Linked DNA regions of Homo sapiens: region 1 is linked to region 2. The links come from fine-mapping of genetic effects on gene expression. A gene starts in region 2. The other region holds a variant in brackets. All regions are shown on one strand. Distances are from middle to middle. Region 1 overlaps JMJD7-PLA2G4B (JMJD7-PLA2G4B readthrough). Region 2 holds the start of MAPKBP1 (mitogen-activated protein kinase binding protein 1).

Region 1 (2,902 bases), 75 kb after region 2:
GCAGGCCCCACTGATGGCCGGGGCCCCTGCCACCCCTAACTCTCATTCATTCCCTGGCTGCTGAGTTGCAGGTGGGAACTGTCATCACGCAGTGCTTCAGAGCCTCGGGCTCAGGTGGCACGGTCCCAGGGTCCAGGCTGAGGGCTGGGAGCTCCCTTGCGCCTCAGCAGTTTGCAGTGGGGTAAGGAGGCCAAGCCCATTTGTGTAATCACCCAAAACCCCCCGGCCTGTGCCTGTTTTCCCTTCTGCGCTACCTTGAGTAGTTGGAGCACTTGATACATCACAGACTCATACAAATGTGAGGCGCTGAGACCATCTGTTATTACTGCTGAGAAGGGCCATGTCATTCTAGGCTCTTGGCTGTACATGGCAAGGGCTGGTACAGAGCTCGCTCATCAGTGTTCTTCCTCCGAAGAGCACATTCTCTGCACACGTCTGCGTCTACCTGTGCTCAGAGTCACCCCTTCCAAGCAAGGAGGAGGCCACATGGGCCTGGGGTAGCCCTGGCCTTGCCCACCTGCTCTGCCGTAACACGTCTCCTCTTCACCCAGACAGGAATGCAGGGGGAGGCCAGGCAATGGCTGTTTCCTGCCACATGGTAGGACCCATCTAACCAGAAGGAACTGTCTATTCCAGAAGCTGGGCCTGGGGAACTGGGTTGAAGCAGCCACGGGAAGGAGCCCTTTTGCCTGTAGCTGAGTCTTATTCTGGTCCCTTAGATGTGTCCTCGCTTGTGCCCCTGAAGTTTGGTGTTGCACTGGGGTTCACCTCAGGGATCAGACCTGTTGGGAAAACGGAATGAATTTAGTAGGGTATGGCCACCCCAGAATCTTCTCCAAACAAACACACACTGGTGCCCCTGCCCTCCCCTGGACCAGCCAGCCTCCTAGAATAAGCGTGGGAGTGGATTCCAGAGCTGACTGACAGGCGCTGCAGCAGCGACCACAGTGACGCGTGAGTGGGTGGGAGTTGCCTCGACTTTCATAACCCAACTCTACGTCTGTCAGCTGGCCTAGCAGCCCCAGCCCTGGGTTAGAGACAGCAGAAAAAATGGCTGTCCTGGTAGCCTCAGGAGCCACTGTGTCCAGGACAAGGCCTGTCCCGTCAGCAACACATCATCTAAATCATATATTGGGCTCTGCAGGACTGGGAGCAGATGGTTACACTGGAGACCACAGCCGTGGCTGCCACCCCTCATGGTATGAGCCCTCCAGGCACACGGCTGTATATGCGTGTGCACATCTAGGCACATCCTGGCATGGGGCCCATGCACGGAGGATTTGCCTGTCTCCAGTCCCTCCTCCACTTTCACCTAACCTCAGGTGTCCCCTCCCCCTGGAGAGCCTGAAGCCCTCTGGTTTGGAAGGGAAGGAGATGTGGGTGAGGGGGGTTGAGCATCGAAATGATGCTGGGATCTACAAGGAGGGACTGAGGAGCCAGGTAAGAGCCTCCTGCCCC[T/C]GCACATCCACCTTCGCATCTCCTCCCTGGCCTGCAGGCCGGGACATGCTGGACCTCTCCATTGCCATGGAGTGGGGATTGGGGAAAGCAGGGGAGGACCAGGTAGAGAACGGGTTGGAACAAGGGTGGGGCAGGGTCTGGCCGTCCTGCCAATGTGCTGTGCCTTGGAGAGGGGAGAGGAGGGAGGAAAGTGAGGAGTGCATGGGAAACAAACCCAGGCAGGCTCTCAGCACTGGGCAGAGGGAAACCTGGCTGCTCCTCCCACAAGCAGCCGAGCAGGAAGGGCACAGGGAGCCTGGGCAGCTTCGTCTACAGGGTCCCCACACTAGAGCCTGGAGTGAGCCCTGGGAGGGGACCACTGTAGAGTCTGTGGAAATCTGGGCTTTGTGGCCTGGATTCCTCTCAGCTGAGAGTGGGCAGGGGCAGCTGAGGGTTCCAATAGCATTTCCCTACAGCCCAACAGAGTAAGTCTGAGGCCCAGAACCTCAGGCTTCAGAGGACAGCGCCTGCCAGCCACTGAAGCCCAGGGCTCCCCGCCCTGCTTCCCCCACCCAGGTGTCCCACCTGAGTAGACATCCAGGCCGGGCATCCTTGGTCGTGCACTCATTCAGAGAGCTGACAGGTTTGGCTTTGAGTTTTGGGCTCAGACTCTGGGCTGCAGAGCAAGGGAATAACCACTGTTAGCCCGGCCCAGACCATCTGCAGGCGCCAGGTCTGGCTGCTCCTTCCTCCAGCTTCTGGAGGCTCAGCACAGCCTTAGGCAGCCTGGCTATGCCAGGCCCTTCCCACGTGGGGGTGTGGGGCGGGCTGAGCACTTGTGGGCAGGTTTTTCCCCCATGCGTCCTGCCTCTTAGGAAACTCCTCACAGGTGAGTTAAGAAAGGCTGAGCCTTTCTTAGGAGGTGGGAAATTCTGGAATGTCGAACAACTCAAGATCCCTTTGGGCTCCTGGGAAGACAGACTCTTGGGAGGAGAGTCCAGGGGAACCAGCGACAGAGCTAGGATCCCAGACACATTCCCTGAACACACGGTCCACACGGAGCCTCAGCAGAGCACGCTGACCACGGAAGAAAGTCCAAAGGGTTGTCTCTATATATTCCTCCAAGTAGAACCTGGCTTGCTTACTGTCTGCAAAACAACTCAAGGGTGGTGACATTCAAAGTTGTCTGAGGACTAGAAGGTTAGAGAAGCACCCAGATCAGACAGAACAGAGCCTGGAAAGCCCTTGGAGGAACACAGTCCATGAGGATTCTGGCAGGAAGGGCTTGGGGCAGTCTGAGTGGCAGACTCCAAAAGGGGCAGAACAGGACCAGGACACAGCTGGGGGTTCAAAACTGGCCCCATCTCTGCTAATTAGCTGTGTGATCTTGGGCAAGTTGCGTAACCTCTCCAGGACCTAAATTCTTTGAGGAAAAACAGTAAGTCCCACTTCTTGGAGGTTAGAG
Region 2 (2,902 bases):
TGGTCTGCAGCATGCAAGTAAAGACACCAGGTGGCACCATTTATTAGCTTTCAATCCCATGGAGAGGTCCCATCATGTAACTACCAAGAGGTTGAAGGAACCAACTACCTCTTGCATATTGTAGCTAATGGTTCTTGCCTTCTTCTTCCAGACTTGGGAAATAAATTTGAAAATCGTATTTTCTGTTTCATAATATTTGCAGTGCATGGTTGAAGGGAAGAAGGCCACGTGCTATTGCCAGTTGGTCTCCAGGAGGTGACATCCATCATCTCCATGTCAACTTGTGAGCTTTACAAATCTAATTTTCAGTACGTGGCTACAGTATACACAAGAAAATATGTGCTTTGCCACTTGGCTCTAAAGGCTCACCGTTGTACACAAGCAATGAGTTTAGGGGTTCTTCCCTCTTGTTATCACATGTCATCTCCACAGGGTTTCAAAAGATCTGGATAGGGTGAGACAGACACACCAGTGTAGTACTCCCTTGGGTCCCTTGTCTTTGGCTTAGGCTTTTTCATAAGGTATAATAATTTGTTAGAGGTTCTTCCCTCTTGCAGACACATGTCATCTCCACAGGGATTCAAAAGATCTGGATAGGGTGAGACGGACACACCAGTGTACTATTCCCTTGGGACCCAAGTCTCTGGCTTAGGCTTTTTCATAAGGTGATTTCTTGTGGTAGTAGTCAAGTGGAGAATACTCAGGAAATACTATTTCATGTAACATTTCCGTGTATTCCCTCTGCCTCCCCCGACATGAGTTAGAAAACTACCCCTCGATCTAGTATCAGCAAGCTCGACAGTGACCTCAGCAAGGAACAGCCCTAGATAAAAGGATTCATAAGTAAATGGAATGAGGAAAAGATCTGGAGCAACAAAGTCCTGGTCAGCTTTAGGTGAGGAAGCACAATGGGATGTTGGAGGCTAAAGAAGCCATGAAACCTAAAGTATTATAACATAGCATATTCACTTCTCTTTCCCCCGCACGCCCAAAGCTCTGTTCAAGGCCACCCTTTCCCCTTTCATGATGACCAGGTTGCCCAGTGCAAAAATACTGTTCTTAGCTATTAAATTGCATTACTCAGAATAATCCTTTCCACGTTGAGTCTACGTGCCGGACTGGCTGCGAGCAGAAACTACTTCAGTCGCTTTAAATCTCAACACTTGTGGTCGCTGGGAGCAGAGCTTTTAGGCTGTAGCTCAGTCTTGTAATTCTGAGCTAGGAGTTTCAGCTACGGTCCCTCGGGCCTATCAGATGACAACCTTAACACCCTGGAGGCGTGGTTATCGTCTTGGGGCTCTGGGAAGTGCAGTTCCATGGGGGACCAGGCCTGATAATACCATAAAAGGCTTGGTTCTCTCAATTCTGAAGCCATGTTCTGTTGACCTTCCTCTAAAAGCGGTACCCGCAATTGTGCGGATTCCGTGGTTCCCTAGTCCCAAGCCGTCTGCTTCCTGGGCCCTTTCATTGGCTCCGCCCCCGTAAACCTTGCTCGTCCACTCTGGAAGCGCTCTCCTGACTACAGGCCGCGCCCCTCGCGTCGGCTCCGCCCACCCAGCCCGCGGCTTGGCCCAGGCGGTAGTTCGCGTTTTGAGCCGATCGTGCCACCATAGCTCCTGCTGCTGCCTCTACCGCTGCGGCTACCGCGGCGGAGCTGAAATTGCCGAACGCGATGCCCGAGGGCGCTGTGAGCGGGGTGGCCTTAGCTCGCCGAGGCTGGTGAGGCTGGGCCCGAACGGGGGCGCTGACGAGTAGCAGGGGCCTCAGAGGCGGGTGAAAGATAAAGGTCCAGAGCCGCTGTGGAGGGCGGAGAGCGAGCTCTGGAGGATAGGGAGTGGGGGAGGGAGGCTCCCGTGGCAGAACGAGTTGTGGGCTACGGCGAGCCCCGCCGCGTCCCCGCCGGCGCTAGCGCAGGTGTCCAGGCCTGCGGAAATCCCTGGTGGTCTCGGCGGCCTCCTCCCTTGGACACTACAGTTGCCATGGGAACAGTTGGGCATTAACGGGAACCAGATCGTCCACGAGACCAACTGGGGCCCATCCCATCCATCTCGCCAGTTAAACGCCTCTGGCGGGCGTGGGCCTGGCATTTCTTCGTGGCTTAGGATTTTCCCCCCCTTTTTCGTGAGCCTTTCCTTCCGACGTTGTAAGAAACTGTGCAGGGCTAGAAGGTGGGGATGAGGGAAATGGTGAGAGCAATACCCAGAGGTAAAAGCTGCAGACTTCGCTAGGCAGAAGGTAAGACACTGTGATACTAAGGTGGCTTCTGCCATCTCAGGTCAGTGAGAGGGCATACTGGGAAGCCCTCTGGAGTGGGAAGACAGTGCCGCTGTTGAGACAAGACCCAGGACTGGGCCGGGGACTGTCCCAAAGGGTTTCTCGTCATAATGGCTGTGGAAGGGTCAACCATTACCAGCCGGATCAAGAATCTGTTGAGATCTCCATCCATCAAACTGCGCAGGAGTAAGGCAGGAAACCGACGAGAGGACCTCAGCTCCAAGGTGAGTCCTGTTGGGATCCACCTCTTTCCAAACCCACCCTCTCCTGCTCCATGTTCCTCGTTAACCTTCCTGTTTCTTGGGAAAGATAACTAGAAGCCCTTGTTGACTCTAAAGGATCACATATGATCTCTGCAGGCAATGATTTGGTTTTAGGTTGAAGGAAAAAGAGCAGCAGGGGTGGGCATGCTGAGATTCATCCATGAGAAAAGGTGAATAGTAGGAAGACCACCTGGGTTCAATTGTGGCCTCACTATACACTAAGCATGTGCTTGGGAAGCCAGTTGATATGCTATGACTCAGTTTCCCTTCTTGGGAGAGGACAGTAGGAACACATACCTTGTGAAGGGCTAAGCTGTGACTAATGTAGCTGCAGGTGTTAACGTAACAGCTGGGGTTATGTAAGA

What was found. PIP is the estimated chance that this variant, and not a neighbour inherited with it, causes the effect.
Region 1: its variant is fine-mapped to the expression of MAPKBP1 in whole blood (TOPMed, PIP 0.99).

Annotation. Positions count from the first base shown.
Region 1 is chr15:41,847,847-41,850,748 of GRCh38, forward strand. JMJD7-PLA2G4B (JMJD7-PLA2G4B readthrough) reads left to right here. Exons shown (of 25, transcript NM_005090.4): 25 at 1-297. The coding sequence ends at 14. PLA2G4B (phospholipase A2 group IVB) reads left to right here. Exons shown (of 20, transcript NM_001114633.2): 20 at 1-297. The coding sequence ends at 14. SPTBN5 (spectrin beta, non-erythrocytic 5) reads right to left here. Exons shown (of 68, transcript NM_016642.4): 67 at 2,023-2,113; 68 at 300-782. The coding sequence ends at 770. Among named protein-coding and RNA genes, the nearest start is that of PLA2G4B, 10 kb to the left of the region's middle. The variant T/C (reference allele first, on the strand shown) is at 1,459.
Region 2 is chr15:41,772,892-41,775,793 of GRCh38, forward strand. MAPKBP1 (mitogen-activated protein kinase binding protein 1) reads left to right here and starts at 1,593. Exons shown (of 31, transcript NM_014994.3): 1 at 1,593-1,719; 2 at 2,276-2,498. The coding sequence starts at 2,385. RefSeq lists an enhancer at 1,040-1,089.